2 linked regions of the Homo sapiens genome follow. The protein of the gene in region 1 interacts with the protein of each later gene in a biochemical or structural test. Each region holds a gene or a part of one and is shown on either strand. Other genes may lie near its edges.

What was found.
Region 2: the proteins of RALB (region 1) and RGL4 form a complex in vitro, tested with the Homo sapiens proteins (one study listed by BioGRID).

Annotation. Positions count from the first base shown.
Region 1 is NC_000002.12:120,283,579-120,290,860, forward strand, and holds part of RALB (ras-related protein Ral-B), read left to right. Parts: intron 1-2,295; coding exon 2,296-2,504; intron 2,505-6,001; coding exon 6,002-6,179; intron 6,180-7,282. UniProt on the Homo sapiens protein: Multifunctional GTPase involved in a variety of cellular processes including gene expression, cell migration, cell proliferation, oncogenic transformation and membrane trafficking.
Region 2 is NC_000022.11:23,693,794-23,699,731, forward strand, and holds the end of RGL4 (ral-GDS-related protein), read left to right. Parts: coding exon 1-181; intron 182-325; exon of another isoform or gene 326-553; coding exon 554-657; exon of another isoform or gene 658-1,156; coding exon 1,157-1,226; exon of another isoform or gene 1,227-1,724; intron 1,725-2,622; exon of another isoform or gene 2,623-2,701; intron 2,702-2,820; coding exon 2,821-2,895; intron 2,896-3,377; coding exon 3,378-3,452; intron 3,453-4,044; coding exon 4,045-4,068; intron 4,069-4,418; coding exon 4,419-4,540; intron 4,541-4,761; coding exon of another isoform or gene 4,762-4,852; intron 4,853-5,050; coding exon 5,051-5,090; coding exon of another isoform or gene 5,091-5,320; 3' UTR 5,321-5,375; downstream 5,376-5,938.

The sequences.
Region 1 (7,282 bases):
CAGCAGTCAGATTTTAAGCTCCTTATGCTCGGCCTAACATACTCGTTTTTGCCTTTTTTGGGAGAGTAAGGTTGGGGATGGAGAGGCTTTGGCAGCAACCGTTTCAGACTTTCAGTCTCTGGCAGCTTAGAGGAAAGTCAGCTTAGAAAGAAAGGGTCCACGTGAAGTTTGTCTTAGACTCTTGGGCATCTGAAACTGAGCCATGCAGAGCTCTGCAAGGCCAGTAGGGGATACGTATGGTTCACGCTAATGGATACAAAGACTTTGTGATTTTCTGTTTCCAGCTGAGCAATGTAAATAAACATCAGGGTTGTAATGGAATGTTGGGGTAATCAGCATACTTTTCATTGAGTACAGAGGTATGTAGGTACAGCAGGACATTCTGACTTCTGTGTCAAAGGAGCCAGTGGAACTCTGGCTGGCTTTATCCTTGGAAGCTCAGAAATATACAGTTGAGATAATTTATGGTAGAATTCAGAGATTTTCAGGGGACAGTCGTGTGTTGGATTTTTTTGGCGTGTATTTTTCTTTTTGGAAAGGAGTTAAAAGAAGGACACTTGAAAGCACAGGCAAGTTTTCACATCTCTATTTGGAGATAATTTATTAGTACACGTTGAAGAGAACCTAATACTAAACATGTCTTAATATTTTTATTTTTGAGTAGCTGTTAACTGACAATACAAGGCTCTTTTTAACAGTCTTCCTCAAATAACCTTTAATTCACTTGGACATTTTCAATTCCATTTTTAAGTTAAAAAAATTTTAAATCACAGCCTTATTAAGATGTAATGCACATATGAAATTCGCTCTTTTTAAAGTGTACAATTTTTTTTTTTTGAGATGTAGTTTTTCTCTTGTTGCCTAGGCTGGAGTGCAATGGCACGATCTTGGTTCACTGCAAGCGCCACTTCCCAGGTTCAAGTGATTCTCCTGCCTCAGCCTCCTGAGTAGCTGGGATTACAGGTGTGCACCACCATACCTGGCTAATCTTTTGTATTTTTAGTAGAGATGGGTTTTCACCATGTTAGCCAGGCTGGTCTCGAACTCCTGACCTCAGGTGATCTGCCTGCCCCGGCCTAAAGTGTACAATTTAATAGGTTTTTTTTGTATATTCATACAGATGTGCAACCATCACCATTATCTAATTTTAGATCACTTTCATCACTCCAAAAAAAACCAACCTACGTATTAGTAGTCATTCCCCGTTATTGCTTCCCCGTCCCACCCCTGGCCTCTGGCAACTGCTTTCTGCTTCTATGGATTTGCCTATTCTGGACATTTCATATAGATGGAATCATACAATATGTGGCCTTTATGTCTAACTTCTTTCACTCAGCATCATGTTTTGAAAGTTGTTCCATGTTGCAGCGTGCGTTGGTACTACTTCATTCCTTTCTCAAAAACCCACACCACTGAAAGCCTCTTGGTACACTGTGTTAGTTCATTCTCTTGATGCTGTGAAGAAATACCCAAGACTGGGTAGTTTATAAAGAAAAGAGGTGTATAGCCTCTTTTCTTCCACAGGGCTGGGGAGGCCTCAGGAAACTTACAATCATGGCAGAAGGGGGAGCAAACATGTCCTTCACAAGGCGCCAGGAAGAAGTGCAGAGCGAAGTGGGGAAAAGCCCCTTATGAAACCATCAGGTCCTGTGAGAACGAACTCACTATCACAAGAACAGCATAGGGGTACCGCCCCCATGATCTCATTGTCTCCCATAAGGTCACTTCCCCAACACATTGGGATGATAATTCGGATTACAACCTAAATGATGAGATTTGGGTGGGGATGCAGAACCAGACCATATCATACATCTTGCCAAATTACTTTTCAGATGAATTTTATACTTCCGTTATGAATAAGAACTCCAGTTTTTTGATATACCTAATGTTAAATGACGAGTTAATGGGTGCAGCACACCAACATGACACGTGTATACATGTGTAACAAACCTGCACATTGTGCATATGTACCCTAAAACTTAAAGTATAATTAAAAAAGAATTCCAGTTTCTCACCCTTGCAGGTGTTTGCATTAAAATTTTATACTGACAATAATATTGCCAAGTGTTCTGCTCTGTGCCTGGTTTCCTCATCTGTAAATTGGGATATCTGCCTGTATTGTTTAAAAACAAAAAATGGCAAAACAGAGCTATAAAGAACAGAAGTGTTACGTAAAATGTTGCTTCTGTAGTGTCCTGTTCATAGTGTGAAGTGCCCATATGTGGAATTTTGTTTTTTGGCAGATTTTGTTCCCCTTAAGACTTTGTTAATTACCGATAATGTTTATTTCCTCAGTTTGTAGAAGACTATGAACCTACCAAAGCTGACAGTTATAGAAAGAAAGTGGTTCTTGATGGGGAAGAAGTTCAGATAGATATTCTGGACACCGCTGGGCAAGAGGACTACGCAGCCATTCGAGATAACTACTTTCGGAGTGGGGAAGGGTTTCTTCTTGTGTTCTCAATCACAGAACATGAATCCTTTACAGCAACTGCCGAATTCAGGTATGTCTGAAATGAAATAGCAGAAGCCCCCAGGAAGCTTTTTGCCTTTTCTCATATGTCTTAGGCCTATGAAGAATTTGGGGCTGAGCATACTAGGAGAGGGCTGAGCTTGTTCTCAGGAATAATTCTGTCTAAAGAATCTTCTGGGGCTTTCTGAATCTTGGCACATTATAGACTATGATGATTATAATCTCTTTGGGCTTTCCTGATCTGTGATTTCTGAATAAAATAATTTTAAGAGTCTTACTGTCCCCGAAAACAATGAAGCTATTCCATATAATCAAGAACATATAATTTTGTTCCTATAAATACTCAGAGATTTTCATTGATAAATTAACCATCTATCCTTTAAATAATGTTACTAAAAAAAGTAGCAGGTTTAGTCTGTGTTGAAGGTTATGAAACAATGACTGGAAAGTGAAAGATGGGAGTCAAAATGACCATTTGCTGCTACTTAAGGACTTTCAGCACAGTGGAGGGACGAGAACGCGGCTTTAGAGTCAGGAGACCTGGTTTGAATCCCTGCCTTGCCGCTCACTGACCATGGGCAAGTTTACTTAGTGTCAGGATTTTGTTTCTTTCTCTGGAAATGCACTTGTGAGTTGAGAAATGAAATGAAAGGATGTATTAGACTGTGAATTTCATGTGGGCAAGAACCTGGCTACCCTCCATTGTCCCCTGTCACAGTGTAGACACATGGTGCTTCCATAGTGAGTAGAATATCCATTGTTATTTATTTTAAAATATGGCAACTATTCTCCATGAAGGTGTTAGAGAAGAAAGAAAAAGAAAATATAGCAGTGAAAAAAATACCTTCAGTTCATTTTGTTATAAAGAAATAGCCTTTTGGGCATAATTCTTATGCTCTATAAATGTCTCTTTACCCCATGCCCTTCCCTTTCTCCTACATAATTGAGTTTTAAAAAATCTGTTCTTCTTATAAACATATCTATCTAGATGACTTTTTAAGAAGCAGATCTAGAGTTTAGTAGGGAACTGAAGAGAAAAAACCCAAAAATCAAATCAGTTTTTTTCATTCTTCAGCAAGTTCTGGTCTGACAGTAAGGTGGTCAACCAGAGGTGAAAAGGAGAAAGCTAGCTATCCTTCCAGGACTTGGATGGAAGCATCACTGAGCCAGGGAGGCCTCGGGTGAGCACAGGTCACCCAGCAGGGCTAGTGAAAGATAATAGGGAGGTGCCTCAGTGATGCTTCATAGCTCCAGGCTTCAGAGTCGAAGACCTACTTTTCTGGAAGCAGAGTGCGTGTGGTGCAGTGACTAGTTAAGTGACTATGACTCATTATGAGAAGTTCTGTTAATTTTTAGACATTTCAGACCTTCCTAAGGGCTGCTCTGTTTGAATGTAGCCCATGTATTTATAATTGTTTGCATCTGCGTAGTCCTGTTTTTAATGCCTCATAGAGGGTAAAACAGGACAGATGCACACACTCTCTTCTTTTCTTCCCTGTCCCGAGCCTTTTGATTTCCTGTTGTTCTGTGACTTACTTAGAAGGGAAGTGGGCAGGAGAGTTCTCTGCAGAGGATATGGAGAAATACAGGTATTTCAAGTGCTCCTTGTCCTCTCCTCAGTCACCACACATGCACAGATAGCACTCGGGCGTTCTCACAGAGTTGGAGCAGGGCTCCCCTCAATGTGGAAAAGGGTTTTGGTTGTTAGGTGGAAAGAGAGATCCTTAGAAGAAAAAGGACAGATGAATACCTAAAACCAGAAAGAAGGGGAAGTTGACCTCTGCGTAGGTTTCTCATGTTGTTGGGAACAGAAGAATGCAGGTCAATTATCTGAGCCCTGTGGCTAAACTCAAGTCACTTTACTTCATGTCTGTTAGCAGTTTTAAAACAGCATTTGTGTACTATCTTCCAAATAGAAAGGCCCCAATATAAAATGACATGTGAATATGCTGTCTTCCTTGAAACTTTTTCTGGAAAATATTTTATGAACTAAGATAAGTTCTGTCATAAGAGACCAGAACTTGGTACTCCCATTTTTGGATCGATATGTTTATCAATGAGGTAATTTTGTGTGCCCCTGCAAGACTAATGAGCCAGAAAGCTATCAGTTTTTATTGTTCATAGTTTATAATGATCACATGACTTCAAATGTATCATGTTCTTTGACCCCAGTTCAAATGTAGGCTATAACAAGGCTACACAAAGCCAATTTCAAGCATCTTTTCATCTTTTTTAGTTTGTCTTAAAATATTTGATGTCTGGCACTTAAATTGACTACATGAAAATTTTAGTTTTTTTTTTTGTTTTTTTTTTTGTAGATACAAGGTCTCCCTATGTTGCCCAGGCTGGTCTTGAACTCCTGGGCTCAAGTGTTCCTCCCTCCTCAGGCTCCCAGAGTGCTGGCATTACAGATGTGAGCCACCACGCCTAGAAAATATTTTTATTATTGTGAAATGTTACCCTATACCATATAAAAATCAATACAGATCTCTACAAAATACATTTTTGAAGGGGACTCTTTTTAGAATGTATTGGCATATAAAAGTAGAAATATTCTCATGGGACCAAAATAATGGAAATGGGGTATTTAATTTTTTTAAATATTTAGTTTTGATTAGTACTTTCAGATAGCTGATAATTTTTAGTAGACGTAAAATTTAATATGCTACGAGTAATGGTATTTTTGTAGAAGACACTTTTGAAGTACTTTTCCATAGGGCTTGTCGTATTTCCTTTCATTTTTTTCACTTTGTAGTAGAAAAATGGTACGTATTGGAATGTGATTACTGCCTAACATATCTGTCTCGATTCTGTGGCCTATAACATTACTGTGTCTGCATGGAAACTGGGGATGGGATGACATACTTGTCGTGTACACATGCAGATCTAATCAAAACTGAAGTTTCAAAACAATACAATATTCACCTTTCCTACTTGAGATTCCCTTGGATATTTCTGATCTGGTCAGTTCTGTTCTATAATCTATTTCACTGCAGGGGGGAGAAACTGCTGGTTGCGACCCACTAGATTGGTTTTGTGATCCACTAATAGGCTGCCACCTTCCATATAGAAAACACTGGATTTCATAGCTTTTATGTCACAAACAAATATTTTCAGGGGAATTAAGCATTTTATGGAGATAGTTCCCTTAGCTTGTTTTTATTGCAGAGATTGACCATTTTTCTTCTTTTTGTTTTTTTTTTTGTGTGTGCATAAGTTGGGGACCCTGTTGTGACGTAAAATCCTGGGCTCCTATCCAGACACTTCTGTAAGACTGAGCCCAGAAATCTGCATTTGTGATGAGCATCCCAGGGGATTCTGATGTGGGCAAACTGAGAAGCAGACTTGGAAAACACTTGTCTTGCTCATGACTGCCTCTAGGGAGTGCTTTCTCAGAACATGCCCTAAATCTAGTGATTTTTTTTTTTCCTTCTGCCTTAGGAAAGCCTTTTATTTTAGATGGGTTCACAAAACCAGGGTTCGTTCTTTAGTTTTTTTAGCTGCTGTATTTTTGGTGTAACACCTTAGGGAACAGATTCTCCGTGTGAAGGCTGAAGAAGATAAAATTCCACTGCTCGTCGTGGGAAACAAGTCTGACCTAGAGGAGCGGAGGCAGGTGCCTGTGGAGGAGGCCAGGAGTAAAGCCGAAGAGTGGGGCGTGCAGTACGTGGAGACGTCAGCGAAGACCCGGGCCAACGTGGACAAGGTAGGCGTGAATTCTGTGTATTTCTCAGAAACAGACCTGAGAAACAGCAGAATGGAGGCATCTCATCTGCTGGGTTTTAGGGAACCATTTATGAAAACTAGGTGAAGATTCTGATTCCTATGAATGTCTAAGCCATTATCATGATTATAATGAGAAACATTGAGAGGATGTCACCTTGTATTTCAGACAACTCACAGAACCTTTTACTTTGTCATGAGGCTTCATTAGAGTATGCTTAATGTGTTCTTTTGGGTTTTTCTTTTTTGAGACAAAGTCTCACTGTGACACCAGGCTGGAGTGGTGTGATCTCAGTTCACTGCAACCTCTGCCTCCTGGGCTCAAGCAATCCTCCTACCTCAGCCTCCCAAGTAGCTGGGACTACAGGTGTGCACCACCACACTGGCTGTTTTTTGTGGAGATGGGGTTTCACCATGTTGCCCAGGGTGGTCTCAAATTCCTGGGCTCAAGTGATCTGCCTGCCTCAGCCTCCCAAAGTGCTGGGATTACAGGTGTGAGCCACCACACCCGGCGGACTATGCTTACTGTTGGTGTGGTCCTGGGAAGGATGGTGGGACGAGGCCATTGGTTTGTGAAGGCTGGGCTGGAGGGATGGACGTCATTAGCTTCTGTGTGTGCTCTCACCTTCCACAGCCTTGCTCTTCAGGAGCAGGGTGGGCGGGCCTGGCTGCTTCTAGGAGGTTCCCCTGGAGGTGCCCTTGAAAGATACGTGGAGCTTCTTGATTTTGCTCTCATTGAGTTATTGGTCAGATTTGTTCTTTTCACCTTACTGTTCACTGACAGAGCCACAGTGTTCCATCTTTGTAGTGTAGTCTCTAAATAGTATTTGCTCTCAGAACTCAAATCTCTGGGATCTCTTTTTTTTTTTTATCTCTTATCCCATCCCAGCATACTTTCTCATTCAAATCTCTGAAGCTAATAAAAGGGTGACCTTGAGTGACAATGATGAATGCTGACAATTTGAAAATCCACCTATCAGGGATTGCTATTGTTAGGCCTTTTTTCTTTTTAAAATTAAAGTTCAAGGTGGTTGCCACACAGCTAAAATTTTAACGCTGTGCCTTAAAGATGAGGCTTTCTGCCTT
Region 2 (5,938 bases), on another chromosome or scaffold:
GGGCTGCATCTGGGGCCAAGGACATCTGAAGGGGAATGAGCACATGGCACCCACAGTTCGTGCCACCATCGCACACTTCAACAGGCTCACCAACTGCATCACCACCTCCTGCCTCGGGGACCACAGCATGAGGGCCCGGGACAGGGCCAGGGTGGTGGAGCACTGGATCAAGGTGGCCAGGGTAAGCTATGGTTGGGCCTGGGGATTCCCTCTTTAAAAATGGGGAACTTCCTCTTCTCCTCCATCGGCTTTCAGGATCGGCATCTGTATCTCTGGCCTGGACCCTGCACATCCCCTAGGCTCTTCTTGCCAGAGCTTCACTCACCTTGACTCCCACGGCCCAGTGGTGGCTGCTCACTTCCGACCTGGGGTCTTCCTTGGGTTGAACTAAAATCCTCCTAGATGAGTGACATCCACTCGGCCCCAGGTCTGCCCTCCTGAGGCTCCCCAGGCCTCTGCTTCATCCAGGAGGGGAGATCTCAGCAGAGGGGGCTGAGGCTGTAGTGGGCCAAGCTCCAACTCTGAACCGCACAGCTCATTCTTCCCTCTCCAGGAGTGCCTAAGCCTCAACAACTTCTCCTCGGTGCACGTCATCGTCTCTGCTCTGTGCAGCAACCCAATAGGTCAGCTACACAAGACGTGGGCAGGAGTGTCCAGGTGAGGAGGGCTCTCTCCATGGCAGCATCAGGGTTGACCTAGGGACTCACAGGTCTCCCCCCATGTGCCCTCAATGACTCTGAAAGGTTCTTGGAGTCCAGGGACACTGGAGGCAGGGATGGGCCGGTGGCTGTGGTCACTAAGCTGCCCTGGACTCCTAGGCAAGGATTTCCAACTCAGGACTAAGGTTTTTTAACCATCAGGAACAGACTGGAGCCAACTGGAGGCTTTCAGGTGTTTGTACCCAGCAGTGGAACTCTGTGTCCAGCTGAAAGCTAACTGTAAACACGCAGTGGCTCATGTGAAGTGGAGATGGGGCCCAGGGGAGGAGCATGAGAGGTCCCACCCTGGTCCTCTGGAGCCCCTGTGATCAGAGGACTCCACTGAAAACTCTCACCCAGTAAGCTGGGATTCACTGGGTTTTCAAACAAAAGGGACTGGAACTCACAAATCTCCCCTGATTCCCAAATTTACCCTTCTTTCTTTCCTCTGCCCATAGCAAAAGCATGAAAGAGCTAAAAGAACTCTGCAAAAAAGACACTGCAGTGAAGAGGGACCTACTGATCAAGGTACAGTGGAGTCTGGGAGATGCAGGACAAGTGTTTAAGGGTCAGAGAAAAGAGTGAGTTTGGAAGGGCATTGGACCAGGTGTCGAGTGGTTATTTTGTTTGGTTTTGACTTACCTACTAAAAGTGGACTTGAAAAATTCCCTCCATGCCTACCTTGGGCCAACAGGAAGAGTGGTGTGTCGGTCCATGGGCACGTGGGGGCATGGGGGCAGGAGGCCCTGGAAATGGGATGTGGCAATGGCTGCTGGGCTGCTGGGCTGCTGAGCAGGGGTGATGAGCTGCAGCATTAGCAGGGCTCTGGCTCCCATGCTGGTCCATGCTGCTGGCATGGAGCTTCCTCCAGGCTGGAGGGTGATCATGGTAGGTGGGACTTCCTTCCTTCCTCAAACCGGCCAGCAATTCCTCAGGAAGCCAGGCCTCTGCTGCTGCTGCTGCTGCTGCTGCTGCTGCTGCTGCTGTCTGCAGCACACCTCCATGGGCAGGGGGCCTTGGCCTGCACTGGGGGAGAGGGGGAACAACAACAGAGGAAGCTCATGTGGCAGGGAGTCCAGTAACTGCCCAGCTTTGGGTACCAATGGGCATACTGGGGACAGACGTAGCTGTTTGCTGGGACTCCCCACTCTGCCCTTTGCAGACACCCAAAAACGGTCATGTCAGAGGATTCTCACCGGTTAGCAGCGACGCATGCTCATGACAAGTATCTGGGGGATTCATACATTGCTAGGGGATCCTCCCTGACCAGATCTCAGAATCGTCCATGCAAATGAGAAGGCAACATGTCACCCCACCCAGGACTCTGGAAAACCCTGCCATTGCAGTCAGAGATGGCGCATCAGGAGGCTACTTCCTCAGTGGAGAAAGAGAGAGTTCCGTGCACGGAACTCCCCTGGGGGATCATTGGCGAGGCGAAGCCTTTGGCATGGCTCAAACCCAGTTTGCGTGGCAGAGATTCCAGTGGGGCTGGGATAGGCAGGTGCCACTTAACCAGGTCTCCTAAAATGCCCTGTCCCTTTCCCATCACGACTGTATGTGGCTGGAGACCTAGACACTCAAAGACTCCAGAGAACACGACCCTGATGGGTGGTGGTGCTGGGATGTGAGCTGAAGGCAGCCGAGACGGAGCCTCCAGGAGCAGAAGGAGGCGTCCTCTCTTTGGGGGCCCTGGGGAGCCACTGCCCGCTCTGGGCCTCTGTTTCCTCATCTGGAAAATGAAGGGATGCTGAGCCTGTAGTGCAGGCCTCACAGGGTAGAAATGAAGTTCAAGAAAAGAAAGCAATTTGAGGGTGCTCGTGCCTGGTTCTTCCTCAGAGGGATGACGGTGAGAACAACGGCAACAGCTACAGGAAACTGAGCCCTCAGAGGCCCTGTGAGGTAGCTGTGGTTTGCATCACTCTTTACAGAAGAGGAAACAGTCTCAGGGAGGCCCGGCTGCAAGACTGGGTGACACACACAGGGAGTGTGGATCTGGGCCAGTGGTATGAGCACGGTGCCAGGTGGCTCCCGCCACTCCCTGGGGATCCAAGTGCGGGGTGGCTGGGGTGTAACTGGGGGAGAGGAGGAGAGCCTCACTGTCCCTGTCGCTGACACCTGGCAGGCGGGGAGCTTTAAGGTGGCCACCCAGGAGAGGAACCCCCAGAGAGTCCAGATGAGGCTGCGGAGGCAGAAGAAGGTGAGTGAGCCTGTGGCATGGACGGGCCGCAGGGGATCAGAGGACAGGGCTCCCTTCCCCGCCAGCTGGAGGCCTCCATATCAAGACAGCGGGGGCTTCCTCCCCAGCCCTGTCCTCCTGTGGCCACTGGGCCTGGAAAACCTTCATTTGAGAGACCAGAGGAAGGGTCTGGGAAAGCTGGACTCAGACTAGATGTGGGGAAGGGTAAAGCTGGGACCACAGGCCTTTGTGACTTGTTAAAATCCCACCATAGAGGTTAACAAGGAGTGCTTGCTAGACTTGGAGGTCAGCTGGGATACAGGAGGCAGAGAATTGGGAAAGGCAGCTGAGGGTCTTTGGCTGCTCCAACCGGGAGACCTGAGGAGGGGGCTCTGGGAGACAGGGGCTGATGGGATTTCATGGGACAGGACCTTGGGCAGGCACCTGAGGGCCAATACTCATCACCACTACCCCTCCCACCTCCCCACCCCTCCTTGGCACAGGGTGTGGTCCCCTTCCTGGGGGATTTTCTGACTGAGTTACAGAGGCTGGATTCGGCCATCCCGGACGACCTGGATGTGAGTGAGCCTGGGGCAGGGTGCTTGGGAACCAAGATCCTGAAGCTTGGGAGGAGAGGGTCCTGGACCGAGCCTTTAGATCTCAGCCCTTGGCAAACCTCCTCTCCTAAGAGCCTCACAGCTGCTCCTGTGGGTGGGGGTGTCAGGCCCATCTCATCACCTCTGAGTGATGGAGGCTCCATGGCAGCCACCAGGCCCTATTCCTGAGTGGTGAAGCTGCAGAGCTGCCTGACTGCAAAGCTGCTGAGGTGTGGGCTGAACTGGGCTCAGCTTCTCCCTAGGGTAGTCCCGTAATAGGAGGGTGAAATTGAGCCTCTCCAAGGGCAGGCAGTTCCAAGGTCACTGAGCGCTTTCTTTCTATGAGAGACCTCAGTTTCCCTGTCTGTCATCACAGAGGGTTGGGGCAGAAGGTCCCTGGGCCTCAGCTCCCATTCCCCCTGCTCTAGAGCCCGGAGCCTGAGGCAGGTCCAAGTCCTGTCGTGTGCACATCCCCTGACCCTGGTGGCCCTGGCAGTAGTGCAGCATGGGAAGGGGTGGGGTGGGGCTGGTTGTGGGCCAGGGGCCTTTCTGATGGACTCTGTCTGCCTTCCAGGGCAACACCAACAAGAGGAGCAAGGTGAGCAGCTGGGGCACTCACGTTGGATGAGGGTGGGGATGTGGACGTCACAGTCCACCCTGGGCAGGACACTCCCTGGCTCCATCCTCTACATCTTAGGCTTACTGGGAGTGTTTGACACACACAGGAGGAGGGGACCTATCCCAGGAGAAAATGGGAAAAGCACTGGAATCAAAGACCAATTCCTGCAGGAGGGGCTGTTTATATCCAACTCTGAGAACAGGCTGGGGGCGCTGCATGGGACCCCTTCAGAAAACTGCCCCAGGGACCAGCCCCTTCTCCCTGCCTGCCAAAGGCCCCCACAGCAACTTCCACCCAGGCCCTGTCAGCATCCTGTCCTCTGTCTCTAGGAGGTCCGAGTTCTGCAGGAAATGCAGCTGCTCCAAGTGGCTGCCATGAATTACAGGCTTCGGCCTCTTGAGAAATTTGTCACCTATTTCACAAGAATGGAGCAGCTCAGTGACAAAGAGAGGTGAGGGCCTAGCCCATGGGCTGAGGGTGGGAGAAGGCTCTCCATTTTTTTTTTTTAACATGGTCTGGCTCTGTCGCCCAGGCTGCACTGCAGTGTCACCATCTCTGTTCACTGCAACGTCTGCCTTCTGGGCTCAAGTCCTTCCTCAGCCTCCCAAGCAGCTGGGACTACCGCTGTACACCACCATGTCCGGTTGTTCTGCTGTTGTTGTTCTGGTACAGATGGGGTTTCACGATGATGTCCAGGATCGTCTCAAACTCCTGGCCTCAAGCAATCCACCCACCTCAGCCTCCCAAAGTACTGACGTTACAGGTGTGAGCCACCCCACCTGGCCTAGAGGAGGCTCTCCCGTGGCCAGCTGCAGAGAGCCTATGGCCATGCCTCCACGGCCAGCATCAAGCCCTGTTGCATGGGGACCACTGGGGACCCAGGATTCCAGCTGGGCAGGCACTGACAGGGGACCTGATGTGTGGCTCATGGTGGCCTCACAGCTGCTTCTCTGTCCTGCAGCTACAAGCTGTCCTGCCAGCTGGAGCCCGAAAACCCGTAGGCTGGCAACATCCTGCAGTGGCTGGGAACCCACCGGGATGCTGGCCAGAACACCGGCTCTGCACCATCCCTCACCCAGACCGTAGACACCAGGGAACCACATCTAGGAGGCTGGCAGCTCAGCTGCATCTTGCCCTGGATCCTCATCACCAACTGCTCCTGCTGGCCAGGATCAGGCCATGGGACTTTTGTGAGTCAGGCGGGAGACCATTTTATGTTTATTTTCTTTAGTGTATAAGTAAGGGTTTTTTCTTAACTTTCGTTAAAATAAAATTTTAAAAAACTATTCAAAATGTTCTGTAGTTGTTGGAATGAGAAAAGTAACTCCAGTGCGGTAACCATATACCAGTCTTTAGGATTCATAGCCTAGCATGTCAAATTGAGGCTATGGCTGAACAAGTTATGGAATAGCATTCACATTACACATGCCAAGCATTTAATGTTTTCCTTCTTTATTCAAATTATTGTTAACTCTGCTTAAGAAAACAAACAGAACAAAACAAAACCCCTTAAAAGCCATAGTATGTCACCCAATCTATGTCACCCATAGTATGTCACATTTGTTCTACTGACCAGCTATTCTCAAACTTAAATTCTAGTTAAATTCAAGTTCCACTGGGTTACTCAATTTTCTTAAGGTTTAAATATTTAACAAATCACTTAAATATTTACTGAAGGGCTGGAGATGGGAGGTATTTAAGCAAGTGGTAGGGCTGGCCTTCTCCAGAAGTCCTGGGCAGAAGGGAGCTGGCCATCAGTCTCCACGAAATACAGATAAACTTTTTCCACTGTGGATCTTCCCAGACCTTCTGACACCTCTCCCCTAAATGAACATCAAGGAAGGTGAGA